Linked DNA regions of Homo sapiens. The protein of the gene in region 2 purifies or fractionates together with the protein of the main gene of each other region. This does not show direct contact. Each region holds a gene or a part of one and is shown on either strand. Other genes may lie near its edges. The genes, in order: VCPIP1, DND1, EMB and TRAP1.

Region 1 (7,603 bases), on a different chromosome or scaffold from region 2:
TGCACATTAAAGCTTGAGGACTACTGTGCGAAGGAATGACTTGCAGCTCTGTACTCGGTCATTTGTCTCAAGGGGCCCTGGTGTAAGGTCTTAAAGAGTGGAATACTGGCCACTGCTCAAACACATTCACATTAGAAAAAAAAAAAGGCCGGGGACGGTGGCTCAAGCCTGTAATCCCAGCACTTAGGGAGGCCGAGGCAGGCAGATCACGAGGTCAGGAGATCAAGACCATCCTGGCTAACACGGTGAAACCCCATCTCTACTAAAAATACACACAAAAAAATTAGCCGGGCGTGGTGGCAGGCACCTGTAGTCCCAGCTACTCGGGAGGCGGAGGCAGGAGAATGGCGCGAACACGGGAGGCGGAGCTTGCAGTGAGCCGAGATCGCGCCACTGCACTCCAGCCTGGGAGACAGAGCGAGACTCCATCTCAAAAAAAATAAAGTTAAACTCCTGCTGACCCAACAAAACTACATCAAGCCAAGTTTGGCTACTGGTCACCAGTTTGTATTGACTTCTTGCCTAATTCTCTCTCAAATCAGTAAGCAGCTGTGATGTAGTGGAAAGAGTGAGTGCTGAACAAGGAAAACCTTGATTTGAAGCCCAGCTCTATTTCATAGCTGGTGGTAATAAAAACGATGTTAACCTTTTAGAGTTAAATCTTATCCGTATAAGGACAATACTGTATCACAGGAGTGTTTTAAAGATTAAGATGATATACTCAAAACACTGCCCTATAATAAATTGCCCTCAATTAAATTTTCATAGCATTTGTGATATTTCCTGTATTATTTTGATTACATGCTTTATTCTACTTATATTTATGAACAATTTAGTTTAGCCTCCCTCTTCTATTAAACTCTAAGCTTCTTTGAGACAGAGATGAAATTTTGCATCCCTTTAAATTCTTATAATACCTACTTCAATAATTAGTCCCTCCCAAATCCACTTTGAGCTTCAGTCGAAGCTTGTGACTGGAAGTCTGACTATACGTGGCACGGGTCTGGAAGAACACAGTCAATTCTTGGTAAAGATGTATAGTTTATATAGGCAGGTATGTGGCCAACTTACAGCAATCCCCAAAGTTATGATTCCCTTCCTTATATATATAAAATATAAAAGATCAAGAACAATGATGGTTGTTCTGTTGGTAAAAGTGGATGACTTCTGCATTTACATTTACCAAGTTTGTTAAAAGCAATATAGGGAGTTTACAAGTGCCATACTAGAAACTATGAAAAAGATGAATTTCTATTTTAACTGAATTTTGGCAATTTAGGTATTAGTGATGCTGGGGTGATGGTGGTAGAAGAGACGTGTATCAGCACAGCTAATGTCAGAGGCCCAGCTTATTCTTTTCATCTGGACTACTAAAAACAAGAACTATTATCTACCCCACAAAAATCCTGTGAAAGTTAATTAGGTAGTTAAGTTAATCTTCATTAGGCAAGATCATGGAATTTGGGAGGAAAAGAGGAAGGAAGCCTGCAGATCTTGCATAAGCAGGAGAGGCTTTCTACACTCCTCCGGTCTTATAAGAAACAGTATGTCCTATTTTTGACCTAACAATTTTTTTTCTTTGTAGGTATCCATGCCTTCTAAGTGCTAGTAATAAAGAATTAATTCACATATTAAACTTGACATGGTTAATTTCATTGCCCCTTTATGTTAGCTTTCTTTCTGAACTTTGAGTGCATCTACAAACTTATTAAATGATCTAGACAAGCCAGAAAAAGGCTTCTCATTTCTTCAGTGGGGTGGGAAGTGATTATTTTGTCATAGTATGGTTCAGAATGACATATTCAAATACAATTTTAAAAATCTACTTCACTATGTATATGTATCATCAATAAGAAAAATTTGGCCTGGTGTTGTTAAGATATAAAAGTACCTGACAGTGTTAGAATTGCAGACTGTTGTCATCTCATGTGCTACAAAGCTTTAATTCAATTATTTGGATTCTGTATGAGAAAAACTTTCACTGCAGGTGTAACATTTTCGTCACAGCATAAAATAATCTCCACTTAAAGGAGATACCCAATTTCTCTACTTATAAAGCATTCAACTGTTAATAAAAAATCAGTGCCAAAACCAATCTGTGTAGTTACCACCAAACTTGTTAGAATAAACAACTTTTCTTGCATGAATTCTCTGAGAAAAACTTTATTGAAAAATACCCCCTCCGGCCGGGCACGGTAGCTTGCGCCTGTAATCCCAGCACTTTGGGAGGCCGAGGCGGGCGGATCACCTGAGGTCAGGAGTTCAAGACCTGCCTGACCAACATGGAGAAACCCCGTCTCTACTAAAAATACAAAATTAGCTGGGCGTGGTGGCTCATGCCTGTAATCCCAGCTACTCGGCAGGCTGAGGCAAGAGAATGGTTTGAACCTGGGAGGCGGAGGTTGGGGTGAGCCAAGATGACGCCATTGCACTCCAGCCTGGGCAACAAGAGTGAAACTCTGTCTCAAAAAAAAAAAAAAAAAAAGAAAGAAAAATATCCCAAGATAGGAAAAATCACTTCTCTTGTAATTAAGGTCCATTATGGAGGATTTCTCTTTCAAATATTTATTTTCAAGAAAATTGTAGCAATTAGGTGCACATCAAAACTAATACCCTTTATGGGCCTCTATTTTGCAGATGGTTCATTTCAAAGCATCAAGTTCTACATACATACATACACACACACACACACACACACACACACACACACACACAACCTAATCAGGCGGTTTCCTGGGCAGCTACAGAAGACTCAAATGATCTCATGGACTTCACTAATGTTTCTAGTTGGTGCCAAATGTTTCAGAAATTTTGAGGTAGTCCACTTACCTAAGGTGATACTAAACTTCCAGAAAGCAAGAATTTCCGTAATAAGTGAAAGAGGATGAATGTACAAAAATAATACTAGCTTTCAATTAACATATGAATATTGTTCTGTATGAAGAGGCAGTTTCCTACCCAAGTGAAAAAAGAATAAAGCTGTTGCCTCCTTAACATTAAACATCCCTTCATCACTAAGAGGAGACTCTAAGGCCTAGCAAAAGATTTGAGCCTAACATTTTGGGTTTTTTTTTTTTTTTTGAGACGGAGTCTTGCTCTGTCGCCCAGGCTGGAGTGCAGTGGCGTGATCTCGGCTCACTGCAAGCTCCGCCTCCCGGGTTCACGCCATTCTCCTGCCTCGGCCTCCCAAGTAGCTGGGACTACAGGCGCCCGCCACTACGCCCGGCTAATTTTTTTGTATTTTTAGTAGAGACGGGGTTTCACCATGTTAGCCAGGATGGTCTCGATCTCCTGACTTCGTGATGCATCCGCCTCAGCGTCCCAAAGTGCTGGGACTACAGGCGTGAGCCACCGCGCCCGGCCGGGATTTTTTGGTAAGCAGCAGCGTAAAAATCACTCTCAAGGTTTGAGATTGGGATCCAGCATAACTGGTGACTTGACCTTGGGCAAGTCACTTAATTCCTTTTAGTCTCAGTTTCCCTGATTGTAAATGAAGTCAACACCACCTGGTAAAGGTATTACAGGACTGGTGTGAGGATGAGATGATACATGTGAACATATTATTAAATATGTAAACTATAAGGCAATAGTAAGCAAATGCTAGTTACTATTCTATGTAATACAGGCCTAACCTTTCCTGCCTATGTCCTGATCTGTAAAAAGAAGACAGGTTGAGATCTGAATGTCTATCCACTCACTTATCAGCTGCGTGAACTTTAGCAAGTCATTTCCTTTCTGGGCCTGTTTCCTAAGAAGGTTATTTTTTAAGATCAAATGATATCGTGTTATGCAAATGCTGTCCAGACACATATTAAGAACTTAACACATGATGGCTCTTATTATTCTCTGGGGAGTAGGGTGGTAAAGAGCAAATGAAATTAAACCTAGTTAAGAGAATTTGTATATGCACACAAAACTCTACAGACATCCAAGGTACCGTTATTTGCACTGTAAACTGCCAAAACATGCAGGAAACGAGAAATCAAATGGCGCCTCAGTGATTCGCACTAGAGAGGGGGAGAAGGCAGAGCTTCCGAGAATCAACTGTTTTCCCCCTTATGGCCTCCAGCCTAGATTAGACCATTTATTCAACTTCCCAGCCCCCAATATCCCTGGACATTTATTTACTGTACCTTTTTCACTGAGAGCCTTTCCACTCCCCTCCCCTTCTAGTAGTCGTGAACTTCAGACCCTCGCTTCGACTCCCACTGCCATAACTGTTTTTAACCAAGCTTCCCTGAATCCTCCCCTCCGCCTAAGGAGGAAGTGCAGCTAGACGCACCGCACGGCATCCTAGGAAATGTGGTCTCTCAGACTCTTTGCCTTGGGCTGCAGAGTGGGGAAGACGACGAAGGAGAGCCCAGTAAAACTACAACTACCGGCAGGCAACGCGAGTCACCATCTTTCTTTCGCCCCTTTTCCTGTTGCCGTCCTCTTCCTCCTCTCCTCTAGCGCTGAACCGCTTGGCCTCACGGTACTTGTAGTTCCTTCTGGACTCAAGATCCTAGGGCTTGATGGCCAGCACAGAGGCTGGAAGACTCTAATTCCCAGAGGGCAGAGCGGAAGCTGCGCCTGCGCACACTCAATGAGGGCGTGTATGTCTGTGTCTGAGGGAGAGAGAGCGAGAGTGAGTGAGTGTGAGTGCGGGGTGGGGTGGTGGCCGTTACGTTCGGGGCAACGGCTACGGCAGTGGAGAAGTAAGAAGAGAAACAACGTCCGGCGCTTCCGCCTTCGCTTAGGAGGAGGAAGAGCTGGTAGGGAAAGGAAAGTGCTTCGCCCTGGGCCTGGACTGGACCGAGTCGGGTTGGTGGGGGTCTGGGCTATGAGCTTTTGAGGGTCGCCTGGGACGCGGAGCGAGACACGAGAGCCAGGAGCTATGTCTCAGCCGCCGCCGCCGCCGCCTCCGTTGCCGCCGCCACCTCCTCCCCCTGAGGCTCCACAGACTCCGTCGTCCTTGGCGTCGGCGGCTGCTTCGGGGGGGCTTTTGAAGCGGAGAGACCGGAGAATCCTTTCCGGGAGCTGCCCGGATCCGAAGTGTCAGGCGCGTCTATTTTTCCCGGCCTCCGGTTCTGTCAGCATCGAGTGTACCGAGTGCGGCCAGCGGCACGAGCAGCAACAGCTGCTGGGGGTTGAGGAGGTGACCGACCCGGACGTAGTGCTACACAACCTGCTGCGGAACGCGCTGCTCGGGGTTACGGGGGCACCCAAGAAGAACACGGAACTGGTAAAGGTGATGGGCCTTTCCAACTATCACTGCAAATTGTTGTCGCCCATATTAGCTCGCTATGGAATGGACAAACAGACAGGCCGGGCCAAGCTTCTCCGGGACATGAACCAGGGCGAACTGTTCGATTGCGCCTTACTGGGTGACCGCGCCTTCCTCATAGAACCAGAGCATGTTAACACTGTGGGCTATGGCAAGGACCGCTCCGGAAGCCTCCTGTATTTGCATGACACTCTGGAGGACATTAAGCGGGCCAATAAAAGCCAGGAATGTCTCATTCCAGTGCATGTGGACGGGGATGGACACTGCTTGGTGCATGCTGTGTCTCGGGCTCTAGTAGGCCGAGAGCTCTTCTGGCATGCCTTAAGAGAGAATCTTAAACAGCACTTTCAGCAGCACCTGGCCCGATATCAAGCTCTGTTCCATGACTTCATTGATGCTGCTGAGTGGGAGGACATTATCAATGAGTGTGACCCTCTGTTTGTACCACCTGAGGGTGTTCCCTTGGGCCTGAGGAATATCCACATATTTGGTCTTGCCAATGTGCTACATCGTCCTATTATTCTGTTAGATTCCCTCAGTGGCATGAGAAGCTCTGGTGATTATTCAGCCACCTTTCTACCTGGGCTCATCCCTGCAGAGAAGTGCACTGGGAAAGATGGTCATTTGAACAAACCAATCTGTATTGCATGGAGCAGCTCCGGTAGAAACCATTATATCCCCTTGGTAGGCATAAAAGGGGCTGCTTTGCCCAAACTGCCTATGAATTTGCTTCCTAAAGCATGGGGTGTGCCTCAGGACCTTATTAAAAAGTACATAAAACTTGAAGAGGATGGTGGTTGTGTTATTGGAGGTGACAGAAGTTTGCAAGATAAATACTTACTTAGGCTTGTTGCTGCTATGGAAGAAGTCTTTATGGACAAACATGGTATCCATCCTAGTTTGGTTGCTGATGTCCATCAGTATTTCTACAGAAGGACTGGAGTGATAGGAGTTCAGCCTGAGGAAGTCACAGCAGCTGCTAAAAAAGCAGTAATGGATAATCGCCTTCACAAATGTTTGCTCTGTGGTGCCCTTTCTGAACTTCATGTTCCTCCAGAGTGGTTGGCTCCTGGAGGGAAATTGTATAACCTGGCAAAAAGTACTCATGGACAGCTGAGGACTGACAAAAATTACAGCTTTCCCTTGAACAATTTGGTTTGCTCATATGATTCAGTGAAAGATGTTCTGGTACCAGACTATGGAATGAGTAACCTAACAGCTTGTAATTGGTGCCATGGCACATCTGTGCGAAAGGTCAGAGGAGATGGGTCTATTGTGTATTTGGATGGAGACAGAACTAATTCTAGGTCCACTGGTGGCAAATGTGGTTGTGGATTCAAACACTTTTGGGATGGTAAGGAGTATGACAATCTACCAGAAGCTTTCCCTATTACTTTAGAATGGGGTGGAAGAGTGGTCAGAGAAACAGTATATTGGTTCCAGTATGAAAGTGATTCATCTTTGAATAGTAATGTTTACGATGTTGCAATGAAACTTGTTACCAAGCACTTTCCAGGTGAATTTGGGAGTGAAATCCTAGTTCAGAAAGTTGTCCACACTATATTGCATCAGACTGCCAAAAAGAATCCCGATGATTATACTCCTGTAAATATAGATGGTGCTCACGCCCAAAGAGTTGGAGATGTTCAAGGACAAGAATCAGAGTCTCAGCTCCCAACTAAAATTATTCTTACTGGACAGAAAACAAAAACTTTGCACAAGGAGGAGTTAAACATGAGTAAAACTGAAAGAACTATTCAACAGAATATTACGGAACAGGCTTCTGTAATGCAGAAACGGAAAACAGAGAAGTTAAAACAAGAACAAAAAGGGCAACCCAGGACTGTTTCTCCCAGTACCATTCGTGATGGTCCATCCTCTGCACCTGCTACACCTACCAAGGCTCCCTATTCACCGACAACTTCTAAGGAGAAGAAGATCCGAATCACAACTAATGATGGACGACAGTCCATGGTTACCCTTAAGTCTTCAACAACCTTTTTTGAACTTCAGGAAAGTATAGCCAGAGAATTCAACATTCCTCCATATTTACAGTGTATTCGATACGGGTTTCCTCCTAAAGAGTTAATGCCACCACAGGCAGGAATGGAAAAGGAACCAGTTCCTTTACAGCATGGCGACAGAATTACAATAGAAATTCTAAAAAGTAAAGCTGAAGGTGGTCAGTCTGCTGCAGCACACTCAGCCCACACTGTGAAACAAGAAGATATTGCTGTTACTGGTAAACTGTCATCTAAGGAACTTCAGGAGCAAGCTGAAAAAGAAATGTACTCCTTGTGTCTTTTAGCAACATTAATGGGTAAGATGAATTTAATT
Region 2 (7,735 bases):
TCCTGACCTCAGGTGATCCACCCGCCTCAGCCTCCCAAAGTGCTGGGATTACAGGCAAAAGCCAACACACCCGGCCTGGATATGAATTTATAATACCCTACAGTGCAACACAAGAAGATGCACTCAAAGCACTGATGTGAGGAAGTACTTGCCCCGTAGCAGCTATTCACTCTACCAGTGTAAACAAACTCTAAGCTAGGGCAAGACAGCACAGACACAAGTATATACTAACCAGGGGTTTAATATAAATACAACCAGCATAGAAAGACCCAAAACTATACAGAAACCAAAACCAGAATGCCATGTGGTGGAGGCAAAGGGCAGAATTTCTGACCCCTTTGGCTCAGCTGCCCTTCCCCACAAATAAAAACCAACAAAGAGGACAAATCAGGACAATAAAGAAGATTCATGCTAAGCTGTGGCAGAGGGGGGAAGGTATGATCGGGTGGGGGTGGGACAAGGAACGGCCATGGAAGATCACTGGGTCAGGTTGGACCCTGGGCTGGGAGCGGGAGGGCAAGGCCCCTCACCACAACTTAACCCAAACCTAAGCTGCCCCCAGGTGCCATAGGTCCCTGTCCCAGCAGGGAGGCTGATGGGCCTGGGCCCATGCCCCTCCCCACCTTTGGGGGTCAGAAAGTGGCCACCCAGGCCTGCTGGGATGGGGCCTGACACAGGCTCTGCATGCCCATTCAGGGTGCCTGTGGAGAAAGAATGGAGTCACTGTTTAACCATGGTACCTGCCTCAGCCCCAGCAGACCACAGGAGGTTGGCCCCAGACTCACTGAGTGCCTGCAGCAGCCGTACAGACACAGCATCCTTGGCCACCTCATGCCCATCCCGGCCATCTAGGGTCAGCACAACCCAGATGAGGCCGCTGAAGGGCACCGGATGCCCAGGAATCACCACCTGGTACCAGAAGCGGTGCCAGCCAGCAGGTCCTATGCCCAAACACTTGGTGAGGAACACAGGGCTGCCCAGCTTCATTCGTTGGCACAGCAACTGCAGGGTAGCCCGAGCCCCTTGGAACCCTAACTTGTCCCTTGCCAAAGCCAACTGGCTGCCCTCTGGCTGTGGGGACCGCAAGAAGGGACCCACAAGCTGCTGGCGAAGTCGCTGCTTCAGGTCTGGCTTGAGCCACTCCACAGCCACCTGCTCTCCACAGAGGTGTGACTGCCCTGTAGGAAAAATGCAAAGACAAGGGCAGGTCTAAACCCTGGGCCCAAGCCTCCAGGTGGTGAGCCCTTTGGAGCTACACAGTCCTGTTATTTGTAGCCTTCCCATTTCCTGGTAGTGTGACCATGGGTAAGAAAAGACAATGAAGCCTTCAGCCTCCATTATTTGCAAAGGGAGTATAACACACTGCTACCTTACAAGTTTCCTTGGAGAAGTACTGGTTAATTGCAGGCTTTGTCTGCCTCATAACCATCATAATGGCTAATCTTTACTGGGAAAACTTGCTGTAAGTCAGTCAGTGTGCTAAGTACCGTACACCCATTATGTTACTTAATTCTCATAACAGTCTGAGGAAACAGATTCTATAGTAGTAAAAAGCTCAGTTGGATTCCCTTGAGCAAATCAATTTCTCTAACAGTTTCCTCATAGCTTGAGGGTCCTGTGCCTATTTTGCGGTGTGGGGGTGGGGGAAGGTTGAGAATTAAGTCAGGAGGTAATGCTCGGGAAGTGTCACAAATTTAGGTAAGCGGTGGTGGTAGCACCATTGGAAGTTTTAAAAATCTGAGATCAAATAGTAAAAGGTTGCAAATTCTGGCATGTTTGACTCTAAGATCTTGTAACTTTAACAGCTATGCTCAGTATAAAGTGCCGGGCAGAACGCGTTTGGCCCCAACCAGCACCCCCGCCCCAGCCTACCTTCCACCAGGGCCTTTTTGGCCATGGCAGCGGCCCGGTGCGAGCTGAATTTGAGCAGAGCGATCTGCCCGGGCGCCGGTCCGGGGCTGGGCAGCAGCCGCGCCTCCTGCAAGCCGGGACCCAGCGGCTGCAGCGCGAGCAGCAGCGCGCTGCGGGTCAGATTCGGCGGCAGGCCGTCAACGCTCAGCTCACACTTCTCGGTGCTGCGGCACACGAGCAGCGGGCAGGACGGCCGCAGCGGATGGTTGTGCAGCGTGGCGATGGCGGCCTGCGCGCCGCGCCTCGAGCTGTAGCGGGCATAGGCGAAGCCGCGGTTCAGGCCGCTGAAGGTCATCATCAGGCGGAACTCGTAGAGGCGGCCCACGCGCTGGAACAGCGGGATAAGCTGGTGCTCGTACACGTCCTGAGGCAGCCGCCCGATGAACACCTCTGACCCAGCTGGCGGCGGGCTGCCCACCCAGCCTGTGGGAAGAGGGTATGCAAGGCCACCGTCAGGCGACGCTTTCGAATTCTGAGCCCACGGACCCAGCGCGCGGGGGTGGGAGGCGATGTGAACAAAGGTCTGTGAAATGGGTTTACACCCGTACCCTGGGTGGTTGGCATAATTAGGTGACTGCGCTAACAAGGGGGCTGGCACAGAGTAGGTACACCTTGAGATTGGCCCCCTCCCTCGACGGGGCGGGTGGACGTGGAGCCACAGTTCCTCCTTTGCTGGGGGGTATAAATCCGGGTAGTTCGCAGTTTCTGACAGTGAAGGCTCGGAGCAGCCCCTCCCCCAAAGGGGGCTGGTGTAGCCGGACAGGCGGAGGGGCTGGGACTACCGTACCTGGGGGTGGCCCGCCATACTTCCTCTGCCCGTTCACCTGCACCAGGCGGATGCCTGTCTCCCTGACCCACGCCTCCAGCGCCGCCTTGTTCTCTGGATTCACCCTCTCACACCACAGCTGAGAGGGAAAGGAAGGTTGGAATGGCGGATCGCCAAGCGCGCCCCCACCTCTCCTGTGGTACTGGGGTCCCTAAAGCCGACCCCCGCTCCGGCGGGGCTCGCCGGCCCCCAAGTCGCCAGCCGCTTACCTCACAATCCCGCTTGGACTGCATGGCTCTCCAGCTGGCCCCCTCGTACCCTCTTTATAACTTCCTCCCCACCGGCCTCTGGAAGCTTCCCTACCCCTCCACCCCGCAAGCTCTCATTGGCTCTGAGCGCGACCCCGCCTCCCAGGGGGGTGGAGGTATCCACTGCACGTGCGCCGCCCGGGCTTCGCTCAGACCTTCAGGTGAAAGCTGCAAAGTCGCGGGTGCGTATGTACGGGGGCTGCCTCCCGAGGAGGAGCTCCCAAGCCGCAGGGTGGACGCTGGAGACAAGAACCTCAGGGTCACAAGTTTACTGTTTTTCTCCCTTTTCCATCCCTACATTGGTCTGCTGGGGAAGGCGGGGCTAGGCATCACTGACACACGCAGACTCCGTGGTTGAGGCATTTTATTGGACCTTTGGCAATTGGTGGTGGGGAGGCATCTGCTCCAACTGGTGCGGGGCCCTGCAGATGGGACCATCTCAGGCTGGGTCCTTGTAGCCCAGGAGCACAGACTGGACTAAGCCTCCTGGGCCTTGTATGAAAAAGGTGTTGTACCTGGCCGTTTTTGCCAGTAATAATCAATAAAATAACCATAATAAAAATCAAAGGCTCTGTTCTGACCACTCTTCAGGTCTTCCGCTGAAACGGAAAAGTGCAAAGCAATTGAAGTACATATGCAGTTTGTCTTAACCTCAAATAGTGCCAGTCCCACTTCCTTTCCTCTGATAGTTTGTTCAGTTCAGCAGATGCAGAGGGGCTGGCCTGTTCTCCTTTTGATTTCCTCCACAAGGTCTTCTCTTCGGACATCCACCTGGCCAGGATGGGAGAAGAAGGTGGTATAAGCATCTTCCATTCCACTGCTCCCCGAGTGCCTAGTTTCCTCTAGCCCTCTAGGCATCAGGCTTGTCTCAGCTGGGAGCAGGAACCTAATTAAACACCTCAGGCTAGAGTGTGCCTCTTGGGGGAGCCAACAAACCATAAGGTATATGCAGGGATGGAGATCTCACCCTACTAAGACCACAGTAACAGGTTAAGCCCTCAAGGCTTTTATGAGTTGTACTAATATCAATGCCAGGCTTTTTCTCAGGTCTTGAATGGGCATGGGCCTGCCAAAATGGCATACATTCTCTGTCCCTTAGCCTTCCTGCCCACCTCCCTCACCTCTTCCCTGCTCGTCACTGAACGGAGCTTGATGACCCCATCCTTGAGTTCCTGCTCGCCGATGATAGCCACCAGTGGGATGCCTGCCTCCTCACAGTACTGTAACTGGTTCAGTAGCTTTGGGTTCTTCTTGTACAGCAGCTCAGCCTGCAGGGGACAAGAGCAGAAGATGAAGGCTGGCTTCTGCTGTCCTCAGGGACAGAGGGTGTCCAAGCTGGCACCCTGTTCTTAGCTCTACTTTTGAGAAGTAATGGCAGGATCCATTATGGGTGAGCTTTTATTCAGTTTGTGTCCAGCACACCTAAGTTTGCTGCCACCCTGGGGCTTGCCTCCCATACCTTGATCCCAGCATCCCACAGTTCTGAGACAAGCTTTAGTCTTTCCTCTAGCAGCTTCTTCTGTGCAGATGCCACAAGCACCTGTGTCTCCGTGGTCCGTATCTTCTCCTCCAAAGCCTGGGGAAGGGGCAGATAAAAGAGAGCTGGGCTAACACCTTCAAGGAGCAAACAAAGCAGGCTCTAGTCGGGATTTTGAGACCAGGCCCAACTCAGCTCTACCAGGGCAGGGGCCCTGTCTTCTCATCTAGCACCTTGGGCATAAAGGTAGCTTTTAGTAGATATGAGGACTGAACTGACTGACTTGTACATAGGACGTATCAGAATAAATAACTTAGGGCAAGAGTAAAGGTAGCTTTTTTACAGTAACTTCAAGCTTATCTCCATGTAGTACCTTTTTTTTTTTTTTGAGACAGGGTCTCTGTCATCCAGGCTGAAGTGCCGTGGTGTGATCACTGCAGCTTCGACCTCCCAAGCTCAAGTGATCCTCCCACCTCAGCCTCCTGACTACAGGCACACACCACCATACTCAGCTAATTTAAAAAAAAAAAAAAATTTTTTTTTTTAATCTGTAGAGACAGGGTCTCATCATGTTGCCCAGGCTGGTCCATGTAGTACCTTAAGGGTCCACCAAAGCATTCACACAGAAGTACTACTATGAGCCCACCCCAATTAGATCACCCTTGACAGTTTTAGTCCCCACTTACTATCTACCCATTTATGACACTGTGCCTCTCACACTTCAGTTACAGGGCACAGGCGTGTATATGGGTGTGGGGAAAGGAGAATGCTGCTGCTGCTTCCCTTGTCTTTTTCAGGAAAACTATTTTCATAGTTCTTAGAATGTAAGATGCCTACTGGAAAAATGATCTCAACTGGGAAATGGGTGGTTTCCACCCTAGAGAAAAGGCATAGGACTGTGGGGAGGTTGCCAGAGCATTTCCCAGAAGATGAAATGCAACCAGCCACTTAAGACCAGCAGCAACAAAGGAGGGCTTGAGGCTACAAGAGGCTTCCTTGGTGTTACTCTAGGTGCTAGAGAGTCACGGTAGCCATCTGAGGGATCCCAGGGCCTCAGACACATGCTTCCCATTTAGAGACAGTATTGCAGTGTGGTTAGTGGCAAGACTTTGGAGTCAGACTGCCTGGATTCAAATTCTGACCCTACCACTTACAAGTTTCATGGCCTTAAGCAAATTATTTGATCTATAATGCTTCAGTGTTCTCATCTGGAAAATGCAATTAATAAAATTAGCTACTCTCACAGGGCTGTAGTAACAATTATATTTTGATAATGCATGAAAAGCACCAAGCACAGTGCCTGGCACAAGGCAGTAAAATGTTAAGTATTCCGTATCATGAGGAAGATCTAAGTCTTGGATACACCAGCCCAGGTTTGTGACAGCCCTGAAGGAAGTAGAGACCCAGAGCAGAGGATTGAGTGCAGAAAGATTATGGATTAAAGATCCATAAAACTTACATATAATGGGGTAGAAATCTGTGAAAAAGAGCAATAATCTTTTCTCCATTTCTGTGAGATGCTCCCTGCCCAAAGCAGCACCACTTGCTCCCTTGGAGATCAGATAGCTTAGGTGCCACCACCTGCTCAGACTATCTTCTACCTACCTCCTAGGACCTACCTCTAGTCTCTGTTCCACGATGGAGAAAATCCGCTCCACCCCAATGCTGAGCCCCACACATGGCACCTTGCGCCCTTTGGGGTCGAACATGCCCACTAGCCCATCATAGCGTCCTCCAGCAGCCACACTGCCCACACCCAGGGGCTCTTCCCCTGCCTGGGCTGGGGTCTGTAGCAGCACTGCCTCATAGATCACCCCAGTGTAGTAATCCAGCCCTCGAGCAAGGCTCAGGTCAAAGGAGATCTGTGGAGATAAGAAAATGGTCAGTGCCAGATTAAGATCAGGGACCTGAAGCCCCAGAGCTCAGAAGGGATCCCGTCCCCAACTTGACTCACTTTGTCATCAATGCCAAATAGGGTCAGGTACTCAAAGAGCAACTTCAGGTCTCCCAGGCCCTCCAAGGCCTGCTTGTTTTGGGATAGTTTAGGATCCTGGAGCAGCTGTTCCACCAGGGATACCCCACCTGGGGAGACAGACTTGTGAGTGAGGCTGACAAGGAAACAAAAAAGGTAAGGAGGGTTGACCTTCTTGCCTGGACTCTAGTCGCCCATGCATGTGTGTGTACATATGCATAGACACACTCACTCCCCTACATACATAACACAGAACAGTTTCAACTTTAGGACTGAGGGCAGTGGGACGGCTGCTGGGGAGGCTTGGTTCTGTTCCTCACCATGTTGCTGGACATAGTCCCCAATGCGGTCAGCCACCTCAGGTGCAAGGCCCTTCTCTCCCACCATCTCATTCTTCACCTCTTCCCAGGACACCTAGGCAGACAGACACCAGTCAGGGACCCCTGGGCAGCTTCCGCACCACAGAGCAAGTGTGTACTGTCCTCGGGGAACCGTTTTAGAGCAGTAGCTGCCCATGAGCCTACATCCTGGGGCTAACCTTCCTCTGGTGGGTATAGAGGCATGCACCTCTCTCTCTCTCAATCTTGTTTTCCATTTCCCAAGGCAGGGTGGGATCTGGGAAAAGAAGTCAAGTACTTGGGTTGTTACCTTGTCCAGCTTGTCTACTGAGGAGCAGATGGTACGGAACTTGCTGTCAGAAACACCACAGATAGCAAACATCCCATCTAGAATGCGTCGATCGTTTACCTGCAAGGAACCAATGCATAGTGAGGGGGGAATCTCTTTTCTTACATGACCTGCAATAGTCATGGTCACTTAGGCTACTGGTCCCTCTGCACAAGGATCTTCTCTTGTGAGAGGCCAGGCCCAACTTTGCCCTCCCAGCCTTGTCAGCTCTGACCTTGACCAGGAAGTCGCCTATCTGAAGTGAACTCAGGATCTCGCACATGATCTTCAGGCACTCTGCATCAGGGATCATGGGATCAAAGTTCCCAGCAATGTCAAAATCCTGCAGGGAGAGGGTTAGCCAGCGGTCTTCAGGGATTCACCTTTCTGAAGGGGGGACTCTGGGAGCTCTGTCCTCTAGGAAGGCCTGGTTGCACTCAAGCATAGAATTTCTCTTTCATTTTCTGATCATCAGCCCAGAGGTAAACCCCGGCATCTTTGGGCTTCTCACCAGTTTTGGTTTCCTTTCCATCTACTGGGCTATTCCTTCATTTTCTACTTCATCATCTTCTTAACTCCTCCTACTGGATGGGGTGATTATATGGCTTTAGTGCTTAGCCATTTTCCCTATTCAT
Region 3 (7,575 bases), about 90 Mb from region 2:
TTTCTTCATCTTGAGCCCAGAAGGTCAAGGCTGCAGTGAGCCGTGAATGTGCCTCTGCCCTCCAGCCTGAGCGACAGAGTGAGAATTCCCCAGGAGTGCAGAGGTTCTCAGAACTGCAATACTCTGAGATGAATTTTGAAAGGTGAATCAGGGATAGAAGAATTAGGGATACCCAGAAAGGAGAAAAATGTTCTAGACAATTCTTTTTTCTTTTTTCAGCTGGAACTAAAAAAATGCTAACTCATAGGGCTATACATTTATAACTATTCTTATTATTAAAATTTGACTCAAAGTCTTAGGTTAACAGACAACCTGTGTCTAAGTATGTAGGCCTATACATCTAGGTCAAAAATATCCAGTAAACCTCACAATATCCTTTGGCAAAGAGAAAAATGAATTTCCCAGAGATCAATACCGAATCTAGAAAACAAGCTGAGAGTGCCTGACAATTTTTAATTCTGGCTTAAATTCGATGCTAACTTCATAACTTTTGTCTTGTACATTATTCCACAATTTTAGCTTACGTGGAGCTAAAAGAGCAGAACTTATACCATATACATAGAGTGACATCCCCTCCCCCATTCATCTTATTGATTTACACCTTCATTTATTCCACTTTCATTTGTTTCCTACCTTTTTTTTTTTTTTTCCTTTAGAGATCTTCTCTGCATATCAACTTAACCCTGACGCCTATGGAATAAGTATTTACCTAACAGTGCACTGTCTAGGCCATATCATTTTAAAGCTGTGGTTTTTAACCAGCTTAAAATCACATTTAAAGCTACATGGAGAGCTGATGAAACTCCTTAATGCCCACACTGAATCCCAAGCCAAATGAACCAGAGTTTTGCGGGAAAAGATCCAGGTATCAGGATTTTTCAAGCTCTCTGGTGATTCTGACATACAGTCAAGTAGAGAATCAAAGTTCTACAATGAATCCAGAATGCACTGGTTCTCAGAACTGCAATACTCTGAGGTGAACCAGGGATAGAAGAATTGGAGATACCCAGAAGGGGGAAAAATGTCCTGGACAATTCTGTTTCTTTTTCTTTCTTTTTTTTTGAGACAGTTTTGCACTGTCACCCAGGCTGGAGCTTAGTGGCACCATCACCATCATAGCTCACTGCAGCCTCAAACTTTGGACTGAAGCAATCTTTCTGCCTTGGCATCCCAAGCACCTGGGACTACTGGTGTACATCACCACAACCGCACTTTTAATTTTTTTTTTTTTTTTTTTAATAAAGAAGGGACCTTGCTATGTTGCCCGGGGTGGTCTTGAACTCCTGGATTCCAGCCATCCTCCCACCTCAGCGCCCAAAAGTGCTGGGATTACAGGCCTGGACAATTCTTTATAAGTGGTATTATGGAAAAGAGATGTGGCACAAGGAAATCTGCGAAGGAACCCACGATGTTCTGTCCAAGTTGTTAACAACTAGACGTTTTAAAAGGCATTTATAAAAATTAATAGTCTTACCTTTTGATTATCCTTCCTTCTCTATGGTGTGTTACAAAAATTCCACATCTTACAAGCCCATGAAAATAAATTCCCATGAGAGTTTGAAAACTTTTTGCAGAATAATGTCCCAATTTTAGTTACTGGTGGCCAATATTTACCAGCTTGAGAGGTGGTCTTTTATTACCCTTACTGGCTGGTAACATTTATGACACAGAAACTTGCAATAGGTTGGATGGAATCCTTTCAATATGAAAAGTAATTATAAACAGGTGAAGGTAGAATGGCAACTTTCGTGTTGGCTTTGTTAATGTTTTGCACGTAATCCCTCTGTCAAAGTGTCTTAAACAATAAAACAACAAGCAAAAATCTCACACATACACACACACACATGCACACACACATTTTGTTTTCAAAGACCACGGTGTAAAATGAAGATACACACACGTTATCCTGTAAGTTGTGGATCTTTGGTTGGCTAGTTGGTTATGATGTTTTTTCCCCTACTCAGCTCTAAAAAAACATCCTCGGCAAGGTGAGGTGGCTCACGCCTGTAATCCCAGCACTTTGGGAGGCCGAAGCGGGCGGATCACCTCAGGTTGGGAGTTCGAGACCAGACTGACCAATGTGGAGAAGCCCAGTCTCTACTAAAAATATAAAATTAGCCCGGCGTGGTGGCGCATGCCTGTAATCCCAGCTACTCTGGAGGCTGACAGAGGAGAATCGCTTGAACCCGGGAGGAGGAGGTTGCGGTGAGCCGAGATCACGCCATTGCACTCCAGCCTGGGCAACAAGAGTAAAACTCCGTCTCAAAAAAAAAAAAAAAAAAAAAAAAAAAATCCTCAAAGCCAACCCACCTGCCAAGAGGAGGGAAGGAGGTGATACTCGAGCCTTACTCTCGAATCAAGAAAAGGGAGTAGGCCTTGGGGAAATGTGGCTTTCAAAATTCATGCCATATTTGCCCAAGCCAAGTCGCTAGCTGGTCCCTGCAACCACCCACACACCCCACTGCCTTCTTCCTAGGAAAAACCAGACTCTGCCCTGTTACCTACGCGCCCGACTCGCGGGGCGCTGTTCGTTCAAGACTCGCCCCAAAGAGCGCAGGAACGCGAGCCGCAGCAGTTTCAGGGTTCAGCTTAGGTGACACAAACGTAGCTAATGGGAGGCCGCCGCCGACTCTCCCACCCGCCCTTACCAGCATCCCCGCGCCTCTCCCCGCCACCCTTGCCCGGCGCGCCGGCGATGCCCTCTGCCCGCGGGGACCCGAGCCTCGCGCGCCCTCCGCCCTCCCTACCCTGGACCCTGTACCCATCACACCTGGGGCACTGCCGTCCGCCGAGCTTGGGCGCGCGGCAGCGAGAAGGCACTGGAGGAGGAGCAGCCGGGGCGTACGCGCCCTGGCCTCCAGCAGGCCGGGGAGGGCGCGCATGGCGCCAGAGGGTCCGCCTGGGTCCTCGTGGAGACTGCTCCCTCAGCTCGCCGCCGCGGGTGTCCAGAGTCCCTGCGCACACTCGCAGGTGGCCCGGCGCTCGCAGCCAGTGCCGCGGGTAGGACGCTGAAGAAAAGGCGGAATGGGAGGGGCCCGGCCGCCTTGCCCCACTCCCCCGAGACGCTCTTACCGCGCCCGGCCCTCCATCAGTTATGCAGCCCTCAGCCGGCTGCTGGCGTTCCCGGATGTGCGGTGGCGGTGCTACTTCCCGGCTGCAGCCTCTCCGGCCTCCGCCCTCTCGGCTCTAGCAGGTCGGGAGAGAGCTTGGGCAGGTGATGTCTAGCCAATCTCGTGGGGAGAGGTCGAAACTCTGCCTACAGACTGGCCTTTGCACTTCACCTGAGGCAGGTTTCACTAATTTGCTTTGATGGGACAGATGAGAAACACTTTTCTCCTCCCGGACCCCGGACATCTTTGGGCTTTCTTACGAGGGAGGCTTATTTTTGCGCAGGTGTAAGGTTTTATCCAGCTGCCAGACAACTTGTGTTAATCTTTCTTTGCTTTGCCTACCAATCACACACATTCTCTCTTCTAGTCTCTGAAGGCTTAACTGATTTTCTCCGGATGAAGGTTTTAGAGTCCCAAGGCCCCATACCGTGTCTGATTTTACTTTATTTTTGTTTGTTAAGCCTAACAGCTTCTGAGGAGCCACCTAGAGCTCAAGAAGCAAAAGCTACTGAGAGTAGATACTATGTAAACTGCACAAGACATTGACCTTTGTTAAATCCGAACACTCTTTAAGATAATGCTCTTACCCACAAGGCTGTAGCTTGGAATATTCAGTGCTCTGAACCAAATTAAATAAATTAGTGCTTTATCCGGGAGGGGAGGAGAAATCTATATTGTAACATTGAAACACATTGATTTGATTTCTCTCCAGGATGTTATAACGCATTAAAAGATATTTTTAAAATTTTTCACGAGCTTTGTTTCCTCTCCCTTTATTTTTTTGAAGTTCAGCTTTCACATTCGTAAATTCAAAATATATCGGCGTTAAAAAAAAAAGGATTGGAAATAACATGAGACAAATTTTGAAAATTGAGCTATTTAACAAAACCTGTGTTTATTCCAGGCAGGAATGGTTAATTTGTAATTGGTACGTATTACTAAAACACGTCTGTTTCTGGTTTAGTATTATATGCACAAAACTTTGGAAACAGAATGTAGATTCTTCAAATTGGCAGTGAGATAATATGAATAATACAATTCATTCAACAATATTATCTACCAGGTGCCAATCTACCATTGTGTTCAAAAGAGGCTAGATAGGCACACATGCACAAATGCACGCATGCACACATGTACACACACACACACACAAATTAGACAACTGTTTATCTGTGAATGACAAATCTCAGAAAAGCCTCTTCTCAGAAAATTATGGTCAAAATTATTAAAATCTTCTGAATGAAACTTTAAAAGATGCCTTCAAGGACTAAATCTTATACACTGTTGACCCTCTGAGGGCATTGACTGGGCTTGCTAAACCCAAATTGCCTAATCAATGGCTGCTACATCACACCTCTTTCTTTCAACCCTGCATCTGGTCTCAGGACTAACTGCACACATTTCCCTATAATTAGGTAGAGTGTCAACAGTAAGCACTTCTCACCTCAAACTAAACTCTGACTGACTTTTCCCAGTTAGTCTCATAAAATCCTTAGACACAAATTCACCCTTCTTAAAGAAACATTTTTTTCAGTTGAATCAGCCTATTTATGACCAGAAAAACTTACTTACCCAAGTTGATGCTGATCCCCACTGTTGCTTTTGCTGTTGGAACAAAAGAGTTGAGAAAGAAATATAATTCTCATTTTGCTAAGCATTTTGAAAGTCTTTTCATCACTGTTCCTGTTCTATATTTAGATATTTGATATTTCCAGCCTTATGTACATTCCACTTTTTCAAATGCTCCATATCCTTTAAAACAAGCTTATTGACTGCCTTCCCTATATAACTTTTTCTATCCCTGATTCACCTTTCAAAATTCATCTCAGAGTATTGCAGTTCTGAGAACCTCTGCACTCCTGGGGAATTCTCACTCTGTCGCTCAGGCTGGAGGGCAGAGGCACATTCACGGCTCACTGCAGCCTTGACCTTCTGGGCTCAAGACGAAGAAATTGGGGATTGGCTTAAGTAATTGCCCAAGTAATTGCTTAAGTAATTGCCCAAGTAATTACACATACTTAGTTAAGCAGCAGAGCAGGAAATTTGGCATTGGTCCATCCAGTGCCTGTTTTCCTAAACACAGTGCTTAAACACAATATCCAGTTGTCTCTCCGAGCTAATTGGAAATGTCTATGAAAGTTCAGAACTACTGACAGCATAGCCTATGCATCTAAATGTCTGATTTGCACTGAATGACATGCTGACACAGTTTGAGTCCTGGAATAAAATTAGGTACAGGGACTCTTTTAAGGTTTTTTGATTAAATAAGACATATAATATATCTTTGTAAAGGACATATCAGTGGGAGTATTTAAATATCATTATTATTACTATTACATGACACAAATTGGAGAAATGGGTCATGTTTATCTTTTGAAAAATGTTTGCAGTAGAATCATTTAAAATGATCCTTTAACTTCCAGAGGACGTGGCTTTTGCATTCCCTTTATGAACCCCCTTCCCTACTAACCTCTCACCCCAAACACAGCAGCTTTCTAGTAATAAATATTTTTGAAGCAAATACTATTCAAGCACCCACATATGTCTGACATTGTTAGTCCATATCTCAGTAGAACATGCTGGCAGTTTTTACCTTTAAGGACATTTAAAGGGGTTCCCACTGGACAAATCTGGGACAAATTGAGCATCAAATAAATAATAATATTAGTGGATTGCAACTCAGGGATAGAAGTACTGGGGATACCCAGAAGAGAGAAAAATGTTCTAGACAATTCTTTTTTCTTTTTTCAGCTGGAACTAAAAAAATGCTAACTCATAGGGCTATACATTTATAACTATTCTTATTATTAAAATTTGACTCAAAGTCTTAGGTTAACAGACAACCTGTGTCCAAGTATGTAGGCCTATACATCTAGGTCAAAAATATCCAGTAAACCTCACAATATCCTTTGGCAAAGAGAAAACTGAATTTCGCAGAGATCAATACCGAATCTAGAAAACAAGCTGAGAGTGCCTGACAATTTTTAATTCTGGCTTAAATTCGATGCTAACTTCATAACTTTTGTCTTGTACATTATTCCACAATTTTAGCTTACGTGGAGCTAAAAGAGCAGAACTTATACCATATACGTAGAGTGACATCCCCTCCCCCATTCATCTTATTGATTTACACCTTCATTTATTCCACTTTCATTTGTTTCCTACCTTTTTTTTTTTTTTTCTCTTTAGAGATCTTCTCTGCATATCAACTTAACCCTGATGCCTATGGAATAAGTATTTACCTAACAGTGCACTGTCTAGGCCATATCATTTTAAAGCTGTGGTTTTTAACCAGCTTAAAATCACATTTAAAGCTACATGGAGAGCTGATGAAACTCCTTAATGCCCACACTGAATCCCAAGCCAAATGAACCAGAGTTTTGCGGGAAAAGATCCAGGTATCAGGATTTTTCAAGCTCTCTGGTGATTCTGACATACAGTCAAGTAGAGAATCAAAGTTCTACAATGAATCCAGAATGCACTGGTTCTCAGAACTGCAATACTCTGAGGTGAACCAGGGATAGAAGAATTGGAGATACCCAGACGGGGGAAACTTTTTCTGACCTTTCTGGTCCAAATTGACCTTTTCCTCCTTGGTGAAATAAATATTGCAACAAGCACTTTGATACTCTCATCATGAAGCGTATAAAGGGGGAATAAGGGTCCTTTGTTTTCTCCCCTTGAGTTGGGTGGGCTCTTTGACTCCCCTAACCTACTGAATATTGCTGAAGAGATACTGTGTGGGCTGGCCAGGCGTGGTGGCTCGCGCCTGTAATTCCAGCACTTTGGGAGGCTGAGGCAGGCAGATCACAAGGTCAGGAGCTCGAGACCAGCCTGGCCAATATGGTGAAACCCCGTCTCTACTAAAAATGCAAAAAAAAAAAAAAAAAAAAAAAAAATTAGCTGTGCATGGTGGCGCATGCCTGTAATCCCAGATACTTGGGAAGCTAAGTCAGGAGAATTGCTTGAACCCAGGAGGCAGAGCTTGCGGCAAGCCAACATCGCACCACTGCACTCCAGCCAGGGCAACAGAGCAAGACTGTCTCAAAACAAAAAAAGAGAGAGAGAGATTGTGTGAGCTTTCTGTTCCAGACCACAAGAGCTTCCACTTCCTTTCTGTTGGAGATCTTGCTCATAGAAGACACCTGCCTAGTGAAAAGTACTACAGTATTATCCTGAGACTGCCACACTGTGAGAAACCCAAACGCCATGGAGGACCCCGTAAAAATAAAGTCAGGTCAAGTAAAAAAGGAATATGAAGGTTTATTATACATACAGAAGAATAGTTCACAAACCAGAAGACTTCAAATCAAAAATAGTAAGAAACTTGACGTGAGAGTTACAGTGCAGCTTATAAAGCATCAATGAGGAAGTGCATTGACCTCTGCTGTGACTGGCTATTAAAAACATATTCCTTTTTGGGCAAGTAGAGTTGTATAAACTTATTTATCTGTAACAAATTGGT
Region 4 (7,020 bases), on a different chromosome or scaffold from region 2:
GTCTCGCTATGTTGCCCAGGCTGGTCTTGATCTCCCAGGCTCAAGTGATCGTTGTGCCTCCGCCTCCCAAAGTGTTGGGATTACAGACGTGAGCCACGGTGCCTGGCCCTTTTCAGGATTTTTAATCAAGCCTGAAGTTACGTGTCCATCTGTTAATTATAACTTTAAGAAGAGCCCTCTGGCTGGGGTTGGGGGCTCATGCTTGTAATCCAGGCACTTTGGGAGGCTGAAGCAGGTGGATCACTTGAGGTCAGGAGCTCAAGACCAGCATGGCCAACATGGCAAAACCCAGTCTCTACTAAAAATATTAAAATTAGCTGGGCGTGATGGAACACACCTGTAATCCCAGCTACTCAGGAGGCTGAGGCAGGAGAATCGCTTCAACCCACAAGGCGGAGGTTGCAGTGAGCCGAGATGGCACCACTGCACTCCAGCCCCGACAGAGAGAGACTCTGTCTCAAAAAAACAAACAAAAGAGGCCTGCGAGGAACAATTTCTTTCCCAACTCCTGCACAGGGATGACGGCATATCACTCAAACATCCATTTCTCCTTGATATGGTTTGGCTGTGTCCCCACGAAAATCTCACCTTGAATTGTACTCCCATAATTCCCACGTGTTGTGGGAAGGACCTGGTGGGAGATAAGTGAATCATGGGGGCCGTTTCCCCAGTACTGTTCTCGTGGTAGTGAGTAAGTCTCATGAGATCTGACAGTTTTTTGGGGTTTCTGCTTTTGTGTCTTGCTCATTCTCTCTTTGCCTGCTGTCATCCATGTAAGACGGGACTTGTTCCTCCTTGCCTTCCACCATGACTGTGAGACTTCCCCAGCCACATGGAGGTGTAAGTCCAATTAAAGCTCCTTCTTTGGTAAATTGCCCAGTCTCAGGTATGTCTTTATCAGCAACGTGAAAATGGACTAATACACTCCTACTCCACAAAAACAGGTTCCCTAGCTTCATCTCATCTAGTGGGGACCACCAAACACCAGGTCTACCACACCCGGAGAAAAACAGGCCTCAGGGCCCAGCTGTCCCTCAGGAGCTGAAAAGCACACTGACCTCAAACAGACCTTCCATTTAAAATCAGTGAGAGAGGCCGGGTGTGGTGGCTCACACCTGTGATCTCAGCACTTTGGGAGGCTGAAACAGGCAGATCACCTCAGCCCAGGAGTTCAAGACCAGCCTGGGCAACACGGCAAAACTCCGTCTCTACAAAAAAATACAAATATCAGCCAGAGGCTGAGGAGGAAGGATGGCTTGAGCTCAGGAGGCGGAGGTTGCAGCGAGCCGAGATCATACCACTGCACTCCAGCCTGGGCGTCAGACCCAGACCCTGTTCCAAAAAATTAAAAAACCAAAAAAAAAAAAAACAAAAACCCACACAATTAAAAATAGAAAAATTAAGTCCGCAAGAGCACATAGGTGAAGAGGAAGCGGTGGCTGATCTGGGCGGAAGCTGGAGGTCACTGGGAGTCAGGAATGCAGCACTCATCAGTACGAAACCCGGAAACAGCTCCTAGAAGGCCCTCTGAGCTTTGAAATCTGCTGCTTTACAAACTTTCTTCAGGACTCTCCTTTGCCTTCCAGCAATAATCAGCATGTCAACGATGGTGGCCTTCATCTTTCTTTTTCCTTGTCCTGTCACCCCAAATGAGTTTTGCGGGGTTTTTTTTAATAGAGATGGGGTCTCTTCACGTTGCCTAGGCTGGTCTCAGACTCCTGGACTCACACAATCCTCCTACCTTGGCCTCCTAAAGTGCCGGGATTACAGGTGTGGGTCACCGCACCTGGCCCCAAATGCGTTTTAATTTCCTCAGTAACTCCTCCCTGCTCCATACACACAGGACTGGGGAACCTTCTTCCTCCGGCAGCCAAAGCCGCCAAGACCTGCAGGTAGTCCCACCAGGCAAAGGGGCCTCAGAGCGTATCCAAAGCTCCACAGAGACGGAATTCAGCAGAGCTGCACGCTAGGATTTGGGGGACTTTTTTTTTGGAGAGAGGGTCTTACTCTGTTGTGCAGGTCAGTGTAGTAACACAATCATGGCTCACTGCAGCCCCAAAGTCTGCCAGGCTCAAGTCATCCTCCCACCCCAGCCTCCTGAGTAGCTGGGACCACAGGTCAGTGCCCCCATAGCTGGCTAATTTTTTAAATTTTTTGTAGAGACGGAGTCTTGCTGTGTTGACCAGGCTGGTCTCAAACTCCTGGGCTCAAGTGATCCTCCTGCCTCGACCTCCCAAAGCACTGAGTTCCCAGGCATGAGCCACCACACCAGGCCTGTATTTCGGGAACTTTTAAAATTATTGGCAAAATTCAATTAATTCCCAGAGTTGATCCAGCCCAAAGAACCATCTGGATACACTTATCCAGGAAACCAAAACAGATTCTGGTAAAACTCCTCTCACTGGTAGCTTAAGATGAGGACCTGTCCAAAGTTTAATGCTTTCTCACAGCTAATATATTATCTGGCAATTCTCCAGAATGGCATAAAAACCAGCTTTGTGAAAAGAAACTTTGCTAGCATCGGGCATGGTTAGCAGGGAACGCACCTCTTTTTCTGAGTACAGGGACCGGGCAACAATGTCCAAAAGCTTCTTTGTCTCGGCCTGGAACTCATGTTTGGAAGTGGAACCTAGTAATGAAACACAGACACAACCAACAAAGTTTAACTTCTATTTTTGTGCAAGAATACGCTACGTCACATTCCAAAGAAAGCTTAAGTTTATGAGTTTTAAACTTTTTTTTTTTTTTTTTTTTGAGACGGAGTCTCGCTCTGTCACCCAGGCTGGAGTACAGTGGCACGATCTCGGCTCACTGCAAGCTCTGCCTCCCGGGTTCACGCCATTCTCTTGCCTCAGCCTCCCGAGTAGCTGGGACTACAGGTGCCTGCCACCACGCCCGGCTAATTTTTTGTAGTTTTAGTAGAGACGGGGTTTTACCATGTTAGCCAGGATAGCCTCGATCTCCTGACCTCATGATTGGCCCGCCTCGGCCTCCCACACATTTAAGATCATGAACAAAAAGAAAGAAGCAGACAGAAACAAAGTCTGGCTGGGCACCATGGCTCATGCCTGTAATCCCAGCACTTTGGGAGGCCAAGGCAGGAGAATCACTTAAGCCCAGGAGCTCAAGACCAGCCTGGGCAACACAGAGGGATCCCGCCATCTCTACAAAAAATACACAAAGTAGCTGACGGTGGTGGCACACACTTGTGGTCCCAGTGACTCAGGGGGCTGAGGTGGGAGGATCACTTGAGCCAGGGAGGTCGAGGCTTCAGTGAGCCATGATTGCACTACAGCACTCGGCCTGGGTGACAGAGAAAGACCCTGTCTCAAAACAAAACAAAACAAAAAGTCTCTCAGAAAGGAGGTCTCAGGGCAGGACAAATCCTCCCACTGCTGAGGCCAGACATGCCTCGGGCTATGTCGAGGGAATGCTGAGCCTGGTTTCCCAATGTGCATGGTTACGAGAACTGGACTGCCTCTAAGAACCAGATTATATGTTCTTTCTTTTTTTTTTAGAGGCAGGATCTGGCTCTGTTGCCCAGGCTGCTATGCAGTGGCAGGATCGTGCTCACTGCAGCCTCAACTTCCTGGGCTCAACCGATTCTCCTGCCTCAGCCTCTCAAGTACCTGGAACCACTGGTGTGTGCTACCATGCCTGGCTAACTTTTTAATTTTTTTCTGTAGAGAAAGGGTCTATCTTGCCCAGGTTGGTCTCGACCACTTGGCCTCAAGCAATCCTCCTGCCTCGGCCTCCCAAAGTGCTGGGATTACAAGTGTGAGCCACTGTGCCTGGACTATATTCTTCAAAAAAGCGGTTTCCAAATTAATTAGTTAGAAATCAAAATAACAAGAAAACCTCACTTCTCTTTTTAACTTCAAAGATTCTACTCTTGTCGACCCACTTAAAAGCCAGAAATGGAGCCACTTCAGGACTGGCTCCAAAGACTGCTTTTTTATACTTCAGAGGGAATGAAAAGACAGCTCCAGAATTCGGTCCTGCGCAGACTGGGCCAATGCTGAGTTTCCCCTCCCGCTTCCATGATTATTAGCAGATGTGCCATGAATCACCACTCAGGGGAGGTGCCGGACGGCAAACTCACGGGTGGCCACCAGAGGGGGCAAGACACACCCGACACTGGCAGAAGTCCCTCGCTGGGACAGAAATGGAGGGCGCAGCACTCCCTACAGCCAAGACCTTCTGATTTCACACCTAAGGCGGTGGCTCTACCAATCACTGCCTCCACCCTGAAAATGCCCCTTTACGCACAGCAGTGAACCAAAAAGCCCTCCCAGACCAAAGCACGAGCCAAGGCTACCCTGCACGCTCTCTGTGCTGCTGATAATCGAGTGCAGGGGTTCCTCCTTGTCCTCGGCGGTCTGCGTGCTGAACAGTCGTCCTGCCTGCAAGCTCCAGGCTGGGTTTCGCCTGGGGCCCAACTGGGCTGTGGTCCTCCGAGGACACAGAATTGGTTTTCCTGAAAAGACAAATATGCAGAAAGAATGAGAATTAGGAAGACACGAGAAACAATATGGTAATTCGTCCCATCAAGGGTGTCTAGCAGAAGCTAGCGTGGACATCTCTAAGTCGGGCTGTTGCTGAAAGAGAAATCCACAGGACCAAATGCCACAGTGTCAGGGTGTGGTTTTGGCAAGGAGCCCTCACAGATGTCATCAGTGTAAGATACTGTGTCTTCTCAGAACCGCAGAAGCGAAACTGGAGGGGGTGGGCTGCTGCCTTCTTTTCAGAGGGGGTCTCGCTCTGTCACTGCGATCACAGCTCACTGCAGCCCCAACCTCCTGGACTCAGGCAATGCTCCTGCCTCCGCCTCACGAGTAGCTGGGACCACAGGCACAGACCACCATGCCCCCATAATTTTTTAAAAAATTTTTTGTAGAAATGGGGTTTTGCTATGTTGCCAAGACTGGTCTCGAACTCCTGGGCTGAAACCATCTTCCCGCCTTGGCCTTACAAAGAGCTGGGATGACAGGCGTGAGCCACCATGCCCAGCTGGCAGATGCCTGCTGACAGCACTTCCCACATTCGCCTCACGGGTGACACCTCGCATCAACCTACCAAACTGAAACCTGTCTCGACCCTCGCAGCCCCTGCAGAAGCCCCCGATGGGCCACACTTCTTTGCTCTTGACAGTCAAGCAAAAAAAAAATCCTCCCAAAAGGGATCCAAATATTTAAATGTTAATATTCTGAAACTGTCTCATCTTCTAAAAGTTGATTCTTTCCCATTGCTTTTTCATCCAAAACAGATTTTTTAAAAAAAATTTGTGTACTTTAAAAACTGAAAAACAGCTGACGATGGGTTCTACCTTCTAACTAAGAAGGAGACTTGTCTTCTGTAACTTCCTGCTCAGTCCAGTGGGCTGAGAAAGTTGCCGGCAGAGCCCAGCGAGGGAGGAAAGCAGCCAATGTGTCCCCAGCCGCACGCAGTTCACCGACGCAGGCCCAGAAACCAGACACTTTCACTCCAACACAGGACTGGACCGACCCAACACCAACACCCACTGACCCCAGGGACCACATACCAGGACCCTGCCTTGGTCAGTAGATTTGCAATACGTGATGGTGTCAAGGATATGTGGCCAGCCAGCCACGCCGTGTCAAAGTCTAAGCCTAAATGAACCGCATCTAACTGGGAGCCTCTCCTGTTCTTCACAAATTTGTAACAAGTAGAAAGGAAAGACAACAGAATATCCAGGAATCAAGGTTTTAAAAATCAGCATATCAGCCAGGGGTGCGGTGGCTCACGCCCGTAAACCCAGCACTTTGGGAGGCTGAGGTAGGCGGATCACATGAGGTCAGGAGTTCGAGACCAGCCTGGCCAACATGGAGAAACCCCATCTGTACTAAAAATACAAAAGTTAGCCGGGCATGGTGGCAGGCACCTGTAATCCCAGCTACTCGGGAGACTGAGGCAGGGGAATGGCTTGAACTTGGGAAGTGGAGGTTGCAGTGAGCCGAGATCGTGCCGCTGCACTACAGGCTGGGTGACAGAGCAACATTCTGTCTCAAAAAAAAAAAAAAATTAACATATCAACTTTCATACTCCTAAAAGGTACAAAAACTTGCCTTTTTTTTTTTTTTTTTTTTGAGATGAAGTCTCACTCTTGTTGCCCAGGCTGCAGTGCAATGGTGCAATCTCGGCTCATTGCAACCTCCACCTCCCGGGTTCAAGCGATTCTCCTGCCTCAGCCTCCCGAGTAGCTGGGTTTACAGGCGCCTGCCACCACACCCAGCTAATTTTTGTAGTTTTAGTAGAGACAGGGTTTCACCATGTTGGCCAGGCTGGTCTCGAACTCTTGACCTCAGGCGATCTGCCCACCTCAGCCTCCCAAAGTGCTAGGATTACAGGCATGAGCCACCGTGCCCAGCCAAAACTTGCCTATTCTTTAGGCTTATTCCTGGACTTACAAACAGCACAAACCTGGCCTTTTGTTTTTGTTTTTTTTTGAGATGGAGTCTCGCTCTGTCGCCCAGGCTGGAGTGCAGTGATCTCGGCTCACTGCAACCTCCATCTTCTGGGTTCAAGCGATTCTCCTGTCTCAGCCTCCAAAGTAGCTGGGACTACAGGCACCAGCCACCATGCCTAATTTTTGTATTTTTAGTAGAGACGAGGTTTCACCTTATTGGTCAGGCTGCTCTCGAACTATTGACCTCAGGTGATCCACCCACCTAGGCCTCCCAAAGTGCTGGGATTACAGGCGTGAGCCACCATGCCCGGCCAACCCTAGCCTGTCTTTATCTCTATGCAGATACCTTAAAAACATCTACCACAATTCAGAAAGTATTCAAATTCCAAACCATGTAAACATCCAGTTATTTGGGCCCATGTAATTGCATTGTTCACTTTATTCGTACAGTTAAAAAAAAAAAAAAAATCCCGGGACATTTCTTCTGGAATTAAATGGTATTTGGCATTAGAGGAGTTCGCGAACAGTCTACATCAAACCAGGGTGCTGAAGTCTCTGTGCCTCCTTCCAAAGCACAGCCAGCCCTGGGGGCA

The links.
Region 1: the proteins of DND1 (region 2) and VCPIP1 purify together in Homo sapiens (affinity purification with mass spectrometry; 3 studies listed by BioGRID and IntAct, with this or other methods). This does not show direct contact.
Region 3: the proteins of DND1 (region 2) and EMB purify together in Homo sapiens (affinity purification with mass spectrometry; 3 studies listed by BioGRID and IntAct, with this or other methods). This does not show direct contact.
Region 4: the proteins of DND1 (region 2) and TRAP1 purify together in Homo sapiens (affinity purification with mass spectrometry; 3 studies listed by BioGRID and IntAct, with this or other methods). This does not show direct contact.

Annotation. Positions count from the first base shown.
Region 1 is NC_000008.11:66,664,232-66,671,834, reverse strand, and holds the start of VCPIP1 (deubiquitinating protein VCPIP1), read left to right. Parts: upstream 1-4,603; 5' UTR 4,604-4,876; coding exon 4,877-7,586; intron 7,587-7,603. UniProt on the Homo sapiens protein: Deubiquitinating enzyme involved in DNA repair and reassembly of the Golgi apparatus and the endoplasmic reticulum following mitosis. Necessary for VCP-mediated reassembly of Golgi stacks after mitosis.
Region 2 is NC_000005.10:140,670,573-140,678,307, forward strand, and holds DND1 (dead end protein homolog 1), read right to left. Parts: upstream 3,005-7,735; 5' UTR 2,971-3,004; coding exon 2,947-2,970; intron 2,817-2,946; coding exon 2,699-2,816; intron 2,335-2,698; coding exon 1,873-2,334; intron 1,774-1,872; exon of another isoform or gene 1,179-1,773; coding exon 721-1,178; 3' UTR 222-720; downstream 1-221. Other genes in the region: HARS1 (histidine--tRNA ligase, cytoplasmic), read right to left, coding at 3,685-3,756, 4,107-4,253, 4,445-4,561, 6,082-6,324, 6,417-6,544, 6,755-6,848, 7,083-7,181, 7,336-7,443.
Region 3 is NC_000005.10:50,438,270-50,445,844, forward strand, and holds the start of EMB (embigin precursor), read right to left. Parts: upstream 3,020-7,575; 5' UTR 2,883-3,019; coding exon 2,771-2,882; intron 1-2,770. UniProt on the Homo sapiens protein: Plays a role in the outgrowth of motoneurons and in the formation of neuromuscular junctions.
Region 4 is NC_000016.10:3,686,509-3,693,528, forward strand, and holds part of TRAP1 (heat shock protein 75 kDa, mitochondrial isoform 1 precursor), read right to left. Parts: intron 4,478-7,020; coding exon 4,319-4,477; intron 2,630-4,318; coding exon 2,547-2,629; intron 1-2,546.